Regions from separate parts of the Homo sapiens genome. Here region 2 is linked to region 1. Evidence: fine-mapped expression QTL. Tissue or cell type: unexposed skin. Region 1 holds a variant in brackets; the other region holds the start of a gene. All regions are shown on one strand. Distances are from middle to middle.

What was found. PIP is the estimated chance that this variant, and not a neighbour inherited with it, causes the effect.
Region 2: PAMR1 starts here. The variant in region 1 is fine-mapped to the expression of PAMR1 in unexposed skin (GTEx, PIP 0.96).

Annotation. Positions count from the first base shown.
Region 1 is chr11:36,142,982-36,151,243 of GRCh38, forward strand. The region is part of intron 4 of LDLRAD3 (low density lipoprotein receptor class A domain containing 3); the gene reads left to right. Among named protein-coding and RNA genes, the nearest start is that of MIR3973, 140 kb to the left of the region's middle. RefSeq lists enhancers at 674-1,281, 6,297-7,496, 6,436-7,009, 6,889-7,068. The variant A/G (reference allele first, on the strand shown) is at 4,795.
Region 2 is chr11:35,520,744-35,528,743 of GRCh38, forward strand. It overlaps PAMR1 (peptidase domain containing associated with muscle regeneration 1), which reads right to left and starts at 4,873. Exons shown (of 11, transcript NM_001001991.3): 1 at 4,770-4,873. The coding sequence starts at 4,842.

The sequences.
Region 1 (8,262 bases):
ATTGGTGAACCTTTTCATTAATATACATAACAAACATTGATTAAACACGTACTATGTGGTAGGCACTATGCTAAGTGCTTAACATTGCAGATGCATATTCACCAGTGAGGCGGGTGGGGTTAACTTCACTTTACAGATGAGGACATTGAGTCTCAGTCTGGGAAAGCATTTTGCCTGGGGTCACCTAGGAGTGATCAGAACCAGCATCTGAACCCAATTCTGTCTGTGAGCCTGTGAACCTGTTCCCCAGGCACAACGCGCTGTCTCCGGCAGCCTTGCTTCCCCTGCTTAAAAGTCACAAAGAACTCCCTGGCCAGAAAGGAAACCCAAGGCCTGGCGTCCTCTACCTCTTTCCCGTGGTGGCCTTGAATGAGAAACCAGAAGAAGCTGGCACATCAGGTGAATGTGGCTTTGACCACTCTCTTTCTCCACGGTTCAGGGCGGACCTTCTTCCAAAAATAGACTTGCCAAAAGTCTTGGCTGTTGTTAGCTCAGAAATAACCTCATTGGGCAGGAGGATCCTGTACCTGGAAATTATGTATTTTCCCACTTCCTGTTTGAGCCCAGGGAGAATGCCACAGGAAAAAGAGAAACAGGTATGGAGACTGTGTGTTCCAGCCTTCCTAAGTGTATTAGTTGGCTGTGGCTGCTAACAAAATACCACAGACTGGGTGGCTTAAATAACGGAAATGCATCTGCTCACTGTTCTGGAGGCCGGAAGTCCAAGCACAAGGTGTCAGCAGGTCTGGTTTCTCCCAGCACCCCTTTTTTTTGGCTTGTAGATGGCATCTCCTTGCTATGTCTTCACATTAGATTAGAGCCCACCCTACAAACAAAACAAAACAAAAACCTCATTTTAGCTTAATCACTTCTCGAAAGACCTTGCCTCCAAATGCAGTCGCATTCTAAAGTGTTGGAGGCTCCCTCTCCCTCTCCCTCTCCCCCTCCCCCTCCCCCTCCCCCTCCCTCTCTTGCCACGGTCTCCCTCTGATGCCGAGCCGAAGCTGGACTGTACTGCTGCCATCTCGGCTCACTGCAACCTCCCTGCCTGATTCTCCTGCCTCAGCCTGCCAAGTGCCTGCGATTGCAGGCGCGCGCCACCACGCCTGACTGGTTTTCGTATTTTTTTGGTGGAGACGGGGTTTCGCTGTGTTGGCTGGGCTGGTCTCCAGCTCCTAACCGCGAGTGATCCGCCAGCCTCGGCCTCCCGAGGTGCCGGGATGGCAGACAGAGTTGCGTTCACTCAGTGCTCAATGGTGCCCAGGCTGGAGTGCAGTGGCGTGATCTCGGCTCGCTACAACCTCCACCTCCCAGCTGCCTGCCTTGGCCCCCCAAAGTGCCGAGATTGCAGCCTCTGCCCGGCCGCCACCCCGTCTGGGAAGTGAGGAGTGTCTCTGCCTGGCCGCCCATCATCTGGGATGTGAGGAGCCTCTCTGCCTGGCTGCCCAGTCTGGAAAGTGAGGAGTGTCTCTGCCCGGCCGCCATCCCATCTAGGAAGTGAGGAGCGTCTCTGCCTGGCCGCCCATCGTCTGAGATGTGGGGAGCGCCTCTGCCCTGCCGCCCCGTCTGGGATGTGAGGAGCGTCTCTGCCCGGCCGCCCCGTCTGAGAAGTGAGGAGACCCTCTGCCTGGCAACTGCCCCGTCTGAGAAGTGAGAAGCCCCTCCGCCCGGCAGCCACACCGTCTGAGAAGTGAGGAGCCCCTCCGCCCGGCAGCCACCCCGTCTGGGAAGTGAGGAGCGTCTCCGCCCGGCAGCCACCCCGTCCGGGAGGGAGGTGGGGGTCAGCCCCCCGCCCGGCCAGCCGCCCCGTCCGGGAGGGAGGTGGGGGGGTCAGCCCCCCGCCCGGCCAGCCGCCCGTCCGGGAGGGAGGTGGGGGGGTCAGCCCCCCGCCCGGCCAGCCGCCCCGTCCGGGAGGTGAGGGGCGCCTCTACCCGGCCGCCCCTACTGGGAAGTGAGGAGCCCCTCTGCCCGGCCAGCCGCCCCGTCCCGGAAGGAGGTGGGGGGGTCAGCCCCCCGCCCTGCCAGCCGCCCCGTCCGGGAGGTGAGGGGCGCCTCTGCCCGGCCGCCTCTACTGGGAAGAGAGGAGCCCCTCTGCCCGGCCAGCCGCCCCGTCCGGGAGGGAGGTTGGGGGGTCAGCCCCCCGCCCGGCCAGCTGCCCCATCTGGGAGGGAGGTGGGGGGGTCAGCCCCCCGCCCGGCCAGCTGCCCCGTCCGGGAGGGAGGTGGGGGGGTCAGCCCCCCACCCGCCAGCCGCCCCGTCCGGGAGGGAAGTGGGGGGGGGTCAGCCCCCCGCCCGGCCAGCTGCCCCATCCGGGAGGTGAGGGGTGCCTCTGCCCGGCCACCCCTACTGGGAAGTGAGGAGCCCCTCTGCCCGGCCAGCCGCCCCGTCTGGGAGGGAGGTGGGGGGGTCAGCCCCCCGCCCAGCCAGCCACCCCATCCGGGAGGTGAGGGGCGCCTCTGCCCGGCCGCCCCTACTGGGAAGTGAGGAGCCTCTCTGCCCGGCCACCACCCCGTCTGGGAGGTGTACTCAACAGCTCATTGAGAACAGGCCATGATGACAATGGCGGTTTTGTGGAATAGAAAGGGGGGAAAAGTGGGGAAAAGATTGAGAAATCGGATGGTTGCCGTGTCTGTGTAGAAAGAGGTAGACATGGGAGACTTTTCATTTTGTTCTGTACTAAGAAAAATTCTTCTGCCTTGGGATCCTGTTAATCTGTGACCTTACCCCCAACCCTGTGCTCTCTGAAACATGTGCTGTGTCCACTCAGGGTTGAATGGATTAAGGGTGGTGCAAGATGTGCTTTGTTAAACAGATGCTTGAAGGCAGCATGCTGGTTAAGAGTCATCGCCACTCCCTAATCTCAAGTACCCAGGGACACAAACACTGCGGAAGGCTGCAGGGTCCTCTGCCTAGGAAAACCAGAGACCTTTGTTCACTTGTTTATCTGCTGACCTTCCCTCCACTATTGTCCTGTGACCCTGCTAAATCTCCCTCTGCGAGAAACACCCAAGAATGATCAATAAAAAAAAGAAAAAAAAAAGTGTTGGAGGTTAGGACTTCAACACAGGAATTTAGGAGAGAACAAAATTCAGCCCATAACACCAGGTAAATAGCCAAATGAATGGGTGCTGGTGAGAAGCACCAAGACCTAAATTCTTATTCAGACTCAGTCACTGCTCAGCCTCCTGATCACACTCCAACTCAAGTTGTCACCCATAAAATCAGAATAATGTCACCCTGTGCACTTACCTCCCTGGATTATTTTGAATATCAAATGTCCGATGAAAGTAAGAACTGCTACATGGCAGCAAGGCTTTGCTTTTAGATAATCCATCAGTGATAAGAGATGGCAAACTTTTTGTATGTTTCTCATAACCTTTTCTCTCTTTATAGGAGTAATATACACCCATTGTCCATCCTTTTCATACCATATAATTGAGATTATCCTGTAAAGAGCTATATAAGCTGCTTCTACATATCATAGTATATTGTATATTGGTTTCCTCAGGCTGCATAAATTACTACAGATTTGGTGGCTTAAAAAAACAGACAGTTATTCTCGTACAGTTCAGAAGAGAAGTCCAAATCAAGGCATCAGCAGGGTTTGTTCCTTCTGCGGACCCTGAGGGAAAATTCACTGCATACCTTTCTCCTAGGTTCTGGCAGCTTCCAGCAATCCTTGGCATTTCTTGGCTTGTAGACGCATCCCTGCAATCTCTGCTTCCGTCTTCACCTGGCATTCTCCCCGGAGTCCCAAGATTTCTTGTCTCTGTGTCCCAAATTTCCCTCTACTTTATTTTATTTTATTTTATTTTATTGATTGATTGAGATGGAATCTTGCTTTGTCACCCAGGCTGGAGTACAGTGGCGTGGTTTTGGCTCACTGCAACCTCCGCCTCCCAGCTTCAAGTGATTCTCTCTCCTCAGCCTCCTGAATAGCTGAGACTACAGATGCATACTGCCACATGCAGCTAATTTTTGTATTTTTAGTAGAGACAGGGTTTCACCGTGTTAGTCAGGCTGGTCTCCAACTCCTAACCTCGAGTGACCCACCCACCTTGGCCCCCAAAGTGCTGGATTACAGGCGTTAGCCACCATGACTGGCCCCCATATTTACTTTTTTTTTTTTTTTTTTTTTTTTTTTTTTTTTTTTTGAGACGGAGTCTTGCTCTGTCATCCAGGCTGGAGTGCAGTGGCATGATCTCGGCTCACTGCAAGCTCCGCCTCCCTGGTTCATGCCATTCTCCTGCCTCAGCCTCCCGAGTAGCTAGGACTACAGGCACCCACCACCACACCCAGCTAATTTTTTTGTATTTTTAGTAGAGACAGGGTTTCACCATGTTAGCCAGGATGGTCTCAATCTCCTGACTTTGTGATCCACCCGCCTCGGCCTCCCAAAGTGCTGGGATTACAGGCATGAGCCACCACACCCGGCCCCTCTATTTACTTTTAAAAGGACACCAGTCATTTGACTTAGGGTCAAGTCTAAATGCAAGATGATCTCATCTAAAGTTCCTTAACTCAATTACATCTGCAGAGACCCCGTTTTCCAAATAAAGTCATATTCACAGGCACCAGGGGTTAGAACATGGACATAACTTTTGAGGGACACAGTTCAACCCCCTACACATAGTATCATGTACACATTCTCAAGTTATTAACAATTCCTAAAACAATCAGTGTTTCAGAATATCTCCTCATGGGGCTGTGGTATGATGTATCTGACACTGCAGTTGCCAGACTCCTGTGATTCTGACCTCTTACATCACTGCAAAGCAATACCTGACTTTGCAT[A/G]TGCCCTGTGGTATTACAAGGGTGAGCCACCAGCTTGAGTCTTTATTGCCTGGGCCTTTATTTCTTTTCCTTTTTTCCATTAGTTGTTTTTTATTTTTATTTTTATTTCTTTTGAGACAGAGTTTCACTGTGTTGCCCAGGCTGGAGTGCAGTGGTGCAATCCTGGCTCACTGCAACCTCCACCTCCCAGGTTTAAGCGATTCTCCTGCCTCAGCCTTGCGAGTAGCTGAGATTATAGGCACCCACCACCAGCCTCGGCTAATGGTTGTATTGTTAGTAGAGACGGGGTTTCACCATGTTGGCCAGGCTGGTCTTGAACTCCTGACCTCAGTGATCTGCCCACCTCGGCCTCCCAAAATGCTGGGATTACAGGCGTGAGCCACCACACCTGGCCAGATTGTTTTCATTGTTTCTGTTTTTCTTATTAAATAAATGTTATATATCTAGCATAGGGATTTTAGAAAAGGAGCCCAGTGATGGTCCTCTCCTTGGTTCTCAACCCTGTGATCTTTGTGTTTTAACCCCTGCCCTGTCACTTTAGGGATCTGGAAGCGGGAAGGAGACATCTGCGAGTGCTCAGATGACTATCTCGATACACTCAGGGTGTATTTTCTGGGGTGACTGTAGGGGCATCTCGGTTCATTTGGTGGCAAATCCAACTTTTCTATTCCCTAACGAGGACTTTGCTGCCTTTATGATTTTTCTCTCACTGCCTGCTTTTGGAAAAATCTTCTGACAGTTATATTTACCAGTAGAACTAGAAGGGAATGCTTCAGTCTATCCTGTGTTTAGAGTCATGGAGTTGGAGGAGGTTTGGGTGGGAATCTGAGTGACAGCCAAGGAGAAGGAGATAGGGCCGTCTTGGGGTTTTCTGCAGTCTCAGACTCTGGGTCTTTGTATGACCCTTGGGAACATGAAGCAGCCAGGGAATGGAGCCAGGACCACTTTACCCCAGCAAGACTCCCAAGCTATATCTTCAAAGGTCTGAGGGACATGGTGCATTCACTTGTCTTCTGCTACCCACAGATGACCAGCTCTGTGAAGGAGGCATCCCCTGGCTTGGGTAGGCAGAAAGTGTTGGAAAGGAATTGAAGTAACATTTCAGTTTGAAGGTTTTGTAACAGATGGTGGTGGCAGCTGCTCTAGGAGAGACAAATGAAGTTAGTGAAATGGTCCTTCATTCAGTCTACCTTGTGCATCCATCCATTTAGCCAACTGTGTTGATACGTATGATGAACCAGGCCCCATGTCGCACACTGGGATGATAAAGAGAGAACACCTGGCCACAGCGTCTGGAAACTCCTTATCTAAGAAGAGGGACAGACTCATGCCCACATGATGAGTTCTGTTGAGTACCAAGGTAGCAGAAAAGGGGAGCTTTGAACTCCATTTGGGAGTAGCCAGGGAAGATGGCCTTTCTGCAAGATTCTTGAGGGAATGATCAGGCACTCAGGCCTGGGAGGGGAGAAGACATCAGACGTCAGGGGATGGTCAGATGCCTGTGCAGAAGGTAAAATGAAATCTGTCAGATAAAATCTACAAAAGAATAGCGGTTGGAGAGTTGTGGGCACAACAAATGCAAAGACCATCCTGGATAAAGTTAAGTTGGCAGGAAGCAAGAGAAAAAGGGGAAAGAAAGTATCAGTATGCAGTCGCTAGAAAGGATAGGACAAAATAACCCAACTTGGAAGGCCCCAGAAAGACAAATGATTCAAGAAGCACCGTCTGTGTCTGAGACGCTGTCCCTGCACAGCAGTGTTGTCCAGCTGGTGAGAGATGAGGATGAGAGGGAGTTTGAATCTGTTCGCTGCTCCTATCTACCTGTTGAAAATGTCAGAGCTGTGAGTCTGCTTCTGGGCTGGTGGCCAGGGTCTGTGGCTCCCAGCGCTGTAGTGTCCTGCCACGTTTGTCTCAGTTGGTAATTGGGTAGAAAACCATCTCCTGGGGCTTGGTGACCAGGGTATGAGGGCACTGAACACAGTGCCAGAGCTTCCAGAAGTGCTGGGGCAGGTGCATCCCTTGCTGACTTGGGGCCCCATTGAGGCTCTGCGTCTGTTCCTCATGACTCATGAATGTGTTCCTCATGACTGTTCCTCATGACTCATGTTCCTCATGACTCATGACTCATGAATGTGGCTGAATTGAGGGCTAAAGCCCTGGGTCTCTCTTACAGCATTGCTTTGGCATTCACCAGGCCAGGGCAGGCGTGAACGGTGGAATAGGGAGTGTGGTAGGATGAGGTGGAAGGTGGGGTGTCCTTTTTCATTCCCCAAAACAGCTTTCTTGAACTATCCACCAGGCTGCAGGGGGTATCGTTTACCTGGGGACTGTGTGGTGTCCCATCTCTAGGGAAGAACAATGTTGCCTCCTAGTGGCTGTGTCTGTCTTGGACACCGGTATCTGAGAACTGAGAACAATATTTGTTCCATAAATGAGGCATGAATATTACTCTTTAAAGATTCCCTGTTGAAGGCAGGCACAGTGGCTCACACGTGTAATCTCAACACTTTGGGAGGCTGAGGCAGCAGGATCACTTGGGGCCAGGAGTTTGAGAACAGCCAGGGCAACAAAGTGAGACCTCATCTCTACAAAAAAATTAAAAATTAGCCAGGCGTGGTACCACACGCCTGTAGTCCCAGCTACCCAGGAGGCTGAGGTGGGAGGATCACTTGCACCCAGGAGTCCCAGGCTGCCGTGTGTTATAATTGTACCAGTGCACTCCAGCGTGGGTGGTAGAGCGAGACCTTGTCTCTTTAAAAAAAAATAAAAAAGGCAAGACCATCCTGGCTAACACAGTGAAACCCCATCTCTACTAAAAATACAAAAAAAATTAGCCGGGCGTGGTGGCGGGCGCCTGTAGTCCCAGCTACTTGGGAGGCTGAGGCAGGAGAATGGTGTGAACCCAGGAGGCAGAGGTTGCCGTGAGCCAAGATTGAGCCACTGCACTCCAGCCTGGGCAACAGAGCAAGACTCTGTTTCAAAAAAATAAATAAATAAAAAATTAAAAAGGAAAGAAAGAAAGAAAGATCCCTTGTTGAAGCTGAATGCCCATGCCCAAATTCTGGCCTTCTCTCTACCTCCTGCTTTTGCAGTAGCTTTCTAATGAGCCTTCCTGACCTCCAGTCCTTGTCACTGAAAGCCCAGTCCTGCTTGTCTTGCTGTCTGTGTTCAAACACACAATAGCCCCTCATTGCCAGTAGCATAAAGCTGAATCTCTTACTGGACATGGAAAGTTCTCCGAGGTCTGATCTGTTCACCACATGCACCCATAGGCACCTCTGAACAATCCTTGGTTTCCCACCTTTCAGGCACACTTTTCTGTCTGTCTAGAACGCCCTCACCAGTCTAGCCAGGCCAGAGGTTTCCAGTTGTTCAAATTGTAATTCACATGGTGCTGTTTCAGTGAATCATGCTCATATCTGGGAATGACCTGAATTCTATCCCAGCTCTGATGTACCCACATGGTAA
Region 2 (8,000 bases), 620 kb before region 1:
CTTTTCCCCATTTGCTTACACCCCAAATCAACTGCAGCTTCTAGAGCTGGTCTCAGGGGAGGCAGGTAGAGAAGTTTTCTTTTGCATCAGGATTGGCCACCCCAGTGGGGCAGATGGAAATAATTTTCAGATCTAAGACCTGTCATTAGGTCCCAGGCACCATTATGTTGGCCATTTCTGTCTAGCCAGTATAACCCAGATGTGGATAAGATTAAGTCAAATCCATTGTCCATGCCAATGGCATTCTAAAGCCCTCCCCAAGACTTCTGCATATTCCTGAGGGACTTACGCGCTCTAGGTCACCTCTGCTTCTGGGCTCCCATGTCTAAGGTGCTTTGTTCACAGGTTATTGACCCAGATATAACACCCAGCCCTGTCTTCAGTTTCCACTGAAAGCTTATGCTCAAGGGCATTCATGAAAGTAAAACATTTTACTAAAGAGTTGGAGGTCACAGAGAGAGGTAAGATTATGCTCCATGAAATATACAGATTAAAATATGTTAGACACTGATAAAAGTCTGATGTACCAGATGCTCTGAAAAATCCTGTTGGCCAATTAGTCCTCAGCAGCTGAACTCCCTTGTTTCCCTCCATTCACCATCCAGCCTTCCACCTTCTCCCTCTCATTCCCCCTTCCTGTCCCATCCCTCTCAGAAATGGAGGTCAAAACTTCAAATGCTAGTAAGGATTAGCAGGTATTAAACATATGGGTTGAGAGGTGGAGTGTCAGACCCTAGAGAGGATCCAGCCTACCTCAAGACATTCAGGTTCAAAACACTCTGAAGCACTTGTGTCCTACTAAATAAATTCTGCAGGCCTTTTGGCTCCAAAGGCTGCCAGTTTCTGGTCTATCAGCACAGTCTCCCTCTTTGCCACAACCAGCCAAGAAGCAGCAACAATGCCAGTAAAACAGGAGCTAGCAAGGGCTCTCTTTCCCCTGCTTCATGTGCATCCTGAAACCCTAACAAAGTTAGATGTCCATCAGCATAATCAGTCCATGTGCTGGATGTGTGAATATATGTCCTCCAGGTAACGGAGGAACTTGGGTTCAGAAACTAGACAGCCTGAGCTCACCCTGGGCTCCACTACTCTGCCAGTGTAGTTGTTTATTTATTTATTGTGGAAAATATATACATAACAAAAAATTACCTTTCAAATCGTTTTTTGTTTGGTTTTTTTTTGTTTTGTTTTGTTTTGGAGACAGAGTCTCACTCTGTCGCCCAAGCTGGAGTGCAGTGGCGCGATCTTGGCTCCCTGCAAGCTCCACCTCCCAGGTTCACACCATTCTCCTGCCTCAGCCTCCCGAGTAGCTGGGACTACAGGCGCCTGCCACCACGCCCAGCTAATTTTTTGTATTTTTAGTAGAGACAGGGTTTCACTGTGTTAGCCAGGATGGCCTCGATCTCCTGACCTCGTGATCTGCCCGCCCTGGCCTCCCAAAGTGCTGGGATTATAGGCATGAGCCACTGCGCCTGCCTCAAATCGTTTTTAAGTGCATGGTTCAGTGGCATAAGTACATTCATACTATTGTGCAACCATCACCACCATCTATCTCCAGAACTTTTTGCTATTCCACATTGAAACTCTGTACCCATCAAATAATAACTCCCATTCCATCTTCTCCTGGGCCCTGGCAATTACCACCCTACTTTCTGTCTACATGAATTTGACTATTCTAAGTACCTCATATAAGTGGCATCACAGAACATTTGTCTTTTTGTGTCTGGCTTCTTTCACTTAGCATAAGGTCTTAAGGTTCATCTGTGTTATAGCACGTATCAGAATATCCTTTATTTTTAAGGCTGAATAATATTCCGTCGTAGGTGTATACTGTATCTTGTTTATCAATGGACATTCGGGTTGTTTCCACCTTTTGGCTATTGGGAATAATGCTGCTATGAACATTGATGTAAACATATCTAATCAAGTCCCTGCTTTCAATTCTTTTGTGTATACACCCAGAAATTGAATTGCTAAATCAAATGGTAATTCTATGTTCAATTTTTGGGGGAACCATACTTGTATATCCTTAAACCTCTGTGTATCATAGAACCTCTCTGAACCTCATCTGTAAAACACGGATAATAACAGCAATGCCATTTCAGGGTGGTCTGAGAATTAATGCATATGAAGCCTTTGGCTCAAAGACTGGACACATTAATAAATGTTCACTAAATGTTTGCTTGATGTTTAATCTCTTCATCCTCTGAATTGAGGGACTCATACTAAAATAATTTCTAAAGTCACTCTCAGCTCCTAAACTCCATGATCCCATCATTAAATTATTTTCCTGTTGGGGATGCCAGGAGCTCTCAGATTGTATATTAGGGGAACACCCTCTTCATGATCCCCGCAAAAATCCACCCGTGCCAAGAAGGCCCAATTTTCCTAGCTTTCTCCTAGGAATTTGCCAACATATCCCAGTGTAATCTCACATCTCATTTTTCTTGCCACTCCTTCTCCCTTGCTTTCTTTCCATGTTTCCTTTCTCGGCTGGCTTTTCCTGCCCACTGAATATCTGCACTTCAAATTATCTTCCCTGGTTGCATTTATGTTCATTCCCCACAAGTTAATGTCTGTTGGAAGCAACACTTGTGAAGTTCTCCAGATTAAGTTTTCATTCCCAAGAGTCCCATATTTTAAATGAGGTTTTCCTCTTCGGCAGAATCACACTGGCAGAGCTACCGCAATTTGGTGAAGTCAGTGGAGTTGGGTTTCTCCCCTCATTCTGTTTATGTTGGGTTATCGCTTGGCCTCATGTTTGGATTCTCATCCTCCCAACATGTGTCACATGCCAGTGAGAAACAACACTCTCTGGTACCATCCCAGTGGATGTTTACAATTCAGCAAATACTCTTTTTAGAAAAGTTAATTAGAGGAAATACGCTTCCAAGCTTTTCTTGCCTGGGGCCAGATTCAGCATCCCAGCAGGGAGTGGACTTCCTTCACTCCTTGAGGAAATATTTTCCTTCTCCACGCTATTCCTCCGTCTTCCCTCGAAATGTGAGTAAAACATTCAACAACTAAAATATCCTTGCTAAACACATGAAGCTGCGCTCTGGTTCAGGCAGCAGTTTAGCTACCAACAAACTGCGTATCCTCTCTGAAGCTTTTTCACAGCCAAAGGTAAAAGAGGTTCTCGGGTCAGAAATAAATGGATTTTTCAGATTCTGGGCTAGGAAAAAGAGCCAGCTCAGGTTTTTTTATTTTCTTTTAAACTTTTATGGCTTTGAAGCGCCTCACCTGCCATGTAATAAAACAGGAAGCAGGGGAACGCTGATGTAACCCTGAGGAATCAAATCCACTGAGCCCTGGCACTCTGAGAAGAACCAGGTCCTCTGGAGCTGGTCCACCGACACCATGCAAAGGCGAAGATGAAGTAGGGAGGTGCCTTAATGCAAAGTCACCCACTTACCCCTAGGCAAGTGTTTAGGTTTATGGATTGTCAGCCCTTATGAAGGGCTCCTTCTTCCTTTATTATTGTCTTTGGGCTGCTCCAGACACCATGGAGGCAAAATTCAAATGAAACACTCACCATCTTTATTGTAAATCATTAAGGAAGATCCTACCTGGGCAGGCAGGCTCTAGGTAGATGGAAAGTATTGACCAAAATGAAGGGCAGGGGGGTTTGTGTATCTCAGCTTTTCGTTGATCATGAAGGGATGTGCCTATGGCTAAGTTTCCCTTCTACACAGGTTATTGCATTTAGTATCCTCCCCACCCGACCTGGCCTGTTTCATTCTCAGGCACTTGCCAGCTACTTGCAGCGGCAGAGCACCCAGCTCTCAGATAGAGTTCAGGTGACAGGTAACCAGCACAGAAGGGAAGCAGCGAAGGCTCGTACATAACCTGCCCCTATTCAGAGCTGCCCCGTTTGGTCATTTCTGTACATCTCGGCCTGCCCTCATCTCATGAGGTCTCACTTTACCCCCTGGGCCATAGAAGGACAGATGTTCCTATGACGTTCCCACTTCCCCGCCTGCCAGCAAGCAGGATCTGCCATGTCCTCGCTTCTGCCCTTAGCTGGATCTCCGTATCATGTCCCAGCCTCATTTGTCCCCAGAAGCCCATTTGACCTGGGGATTGTGGCTTAGAAAATGATATATGAAAACCAAAGAAGCCAGAGCTCTTTCAAAACAAACCCTATGCATCCCAGAAACAATCTGCACTTTTAACCTTGGCTTTTTCTTCTTTCTCACTCTCATCAGAAAGGAAGTGTGTCTATATATGCTGAGTGAGTCAATCTCCTGTGCTTGGATCTACTCCGAAGGGGTATGGCTGTAGGAGTTCGTGAAGCAAGATTCACCAGAAGAACACCAAGCAAGCCCTGCTCTTTATTCCTTTCTTTCTTTCCCTCTCTTCTTTCTTTCTTGCTCACCTCTGAGGGAGCCCTTTCCAAGAGAAACTTCGCTTTTGCAAGTCAGAGCGGGTAACTCAGAATTGATTCCCTAAGGCAATTTGGTACTTTTAAAATGATAAAAAGAGCAAATAAAATAGGAGCTGGTCCGCTTTCCTGAGACAGTACAGCCCCACGATTTGGGATGACAAAACCACGTCACAGTCTCAGGGAGGGCCACAGGAGCTCCAGCACCACCAGCCAAGTCCCTAAAATTATCACTGGAAAAGCACCACCCCCCCTCAACCCCTCACCCCAAACACACACAGCCCACCTCCTGAGACTCCCAGTCCTGCTCCCAGGCAGACCCCAGGAGGAAAATGCTCCCTCCTAGGGTGTCCTCCTAGGGTGTCCCGGACGCTACTCACAGTACCTCTTGGCAAGGACGAGATGAGAAGGAGCTGAAGAAAAGTGAGCCCCAACTGCGTCCAGCAACCCAGCTCCATCCTTGCCGCGGCTGGTGCCCGAGCGTCTACTGGGGAGGGAGAGGAGGGACCCAGGGAGGCCGGGGGCAGGCGGGTTTTACAGGGACCTCCCCGAGCCCCAGCTGAGCGGGAGCTCGGGTTTCAGCTCGCCAGGCTCTCCCATCCTCATCTGAGGGGAACCACCTTCAGCCAGAGCGACGTCAGCCCAAACCTCTCCTCTCTGCTGCCTTAACCCTTGCGGGGCCCCGGGAGGTGTGGCCACGCCTGGAGACCCGCGGACGGCGGCTGCAAAGGAAGCTGCGGGGGAGGGAGGCCAGCCTGGGTACAGGTGGGGTCCCAGTGTTGGGTGCTGGGAGGAGGGGCCATAGGACCCTGGGCGGGAGCAGAGGTACCCAGGGCTGCGGGGCGCTCAGGTGAGGCCGGGAGATCTTCCTACGGGAGGCTGAGACGGGAGCTGGCTTTGCCCTCTCTGACTGCACGCGGGGAGCCTGATTAAAAGCCTGGCCTGAGGAGAAGGAGGAGTTGGTGATGGGAGGAGAAAGGGAGCCTCCCTCCACTCCGCACGCAACACTCCTCGTTTATCTCCTTTCCTCTCCGTTTGCTCCAGGTGATCACAGGTTGGAAAGCTTATTATCTTTTGCAACTACAGGCTACTGGAAAAAGTTTTCCTCTTCCTATGATCCCCGTCATGGTGAATTCAGCGACATAAGCAGCTCCTGAGCTACTGGAAAAAGTTTTCCTCTTCCTGTGATCCCCACGATGGTGAATTCAGCAACATAAATAGCTCCTGCGCACACGCCAGGCAGGGATGGCGAAGAACACACAAGAACCCTCACTGCCTCCACCAAAAGGGCTCAGTTTAGGTACAAGATAGCAAGTGACATCTCGAAATGAGGAAGAAGGATGTTTCATAATAGGTGACTTTTTAAAATAAACTCCTCCGTGCCAGGTGTCATGTACCTTACATGTATTAACTCAATTATTCCTCACAATAAACCTAGCCTCTGTATTTTACAATTAGAGAAACGGAACCATTGAGGATTACAATAACTCATCCAAGGCCACACAGTTAGTGAGGGGCAGAGCCAGGGTTTGAACCCGGGCAGCTTAGGCCCACAGGCTATAGTCTTAGCCACTAGGCTATAGAGCTTCTTAGGATGCTACATATGCAGAATTGTATTTCACCATTTGATATGGCTTCGCTGTGTCCCCACCCAAACCTCATCTTGAATTGTGGTTCCCATAAACCCCACGTGTCATGGGAGGGACCAGGTGGAGATAATTGAATCATGGGGACAGTTACCCCCATAAAAGTTTTAATTTTGTTCTCTAGATGTTGGCGGGCCCTGGTGGTTTACAAGTAGGGTGTGCTGAGCTCAAAGCAAAGTCTCGGGAAGAGAAGTCACCCTGGACTATTGATGAAGGCCTGGAGTAAGGATTAAGAAATGGAAGTGGAAGGGAAAAGATAAGGGGAGAAACCTGAGGAAGGTAGAATCTGTAAAGCTCAGGACAGATCAGAAGGTCAGGAGCCCTGACACAGGTGCTCTACTAGAAAGAATTTCTGAACTCCAGCCCTGCTTCTGGGGGCCTATTGCAGTGAAGTGACTGGAAGCAAGAACTCAGCAGGCCTGTGTTCTAATTTTGTTGATTCACCACTTTCTGGCTGTGTGACCTTAAGCAAGTTAACTCTCTGAATCTCAGTCTTCTCATCTATAAAATGGAAATAATAATCAAACCTACTTTGTAGATCACTGGAAGAATTTAATAAGATTACGCATGTAAGGCCCATAGCACAGAGCCTACCACATATTAAGTGCACACTAAATATTAATCATTATCTCTATTATCTGACCTGAGACTGCCCCCAAGAACATCTCATGGTATGAGTCTTGTTCCTACACTCAACTTCCATATCGAGATGAAATCAGTTAAAATAAGCACCAAGAGTAGCCTTAAACAGGAGCAGAATACCAGAGGGCAGCATATACCTAAGAGGTAGAGGGCAGAGGTTCGAAGAAGGGAGGTTCACCTTGTTGCTGGCCAACCAGTCCTGGTCCTTTGGTGATGGGAGTGGGAAGAAGATGACTTAGTTCCCAAATAACTGTAGGCATAAGAGCCTCTCAGGAGTCTGTTTCAACTCCAGCTGACGGCACCTGAGCTTTACAGATTCTACCTTCCTCAGGTTTCTCCCCTTATCTTTTCCCTTCCACTTCCATTTCTTAATCTTTACTCCAGGCCTTCATCAATAGTCCAGGGTGACTTCTCTTCCCAAGACTTTGCTTCGAGCTCAGCACACCTTACTCCTAAACCACCAGGGCCCACCAACATCTAGAGAACAAAATGAAAACTTTTATGGGGGTAACTGTCCCCATGATTCAACTATCTCCACCTGGTCCTTCCCATGACACGTGGGGTTTCTTTTCATCTTCCCTCTCCCCACCTCCCAGCCCCCACCACACACACCTCTCTGAGTCAATACCAAGCAGCCTCATCCCTACATGAATTGCATCCCCCTGACAGAATGGGGCTCTAAGTGATGAACCTGAAGGATAGCAGTCTATACCACCCCCAAATATGCCCCTTTGGCATAAGGATTATTTTGAGCTGAAAGCAGTTAAGAAGAAGTAGATACAAGAATAGGTCTCTGTTCTCCCCCCATTTTCCTAAAAGCAGACTTGAATTTATAAAAGTATAGTGTCTCCACCTCCCCTCTCTACCAGGACGGACAGAAGTTAATCATTGGAGACAACCCTAGACCCTTATCAGCCCAGAGGAATCTACATACCAAAACTTACTAACTAGTCTTATCTCCCATTAGGACCCCCATTTATTTATCTTCCCATAATTTGCTACCCCTAGAAGCTCAAAGTCCTTTTTGTTTGTCTTGCCACTTCTCTGCAAATTTATTGTTCTTTTTAAAAATGCAATATGAACCCAAATTCTAACCATCTCTTTGAGTTACTCCTCACTAGGTATTTCAACATGTAAGCACCATGCACAAGTTAATAAAAAACTTTTGTTTGTTTTTCTCTTGTTAATCTGTTTTTTCTTTTTTTTGTCATTCTAATTTACAGGGCCACAGCCAAGGAATCTAAGATGGGTAGGGAAGAAAGATTATTTTTCCTTCCCAACAAACCTGTTTGGCTATTTGCTAAGGAAGTCCCTGGTACCAGGTCTTT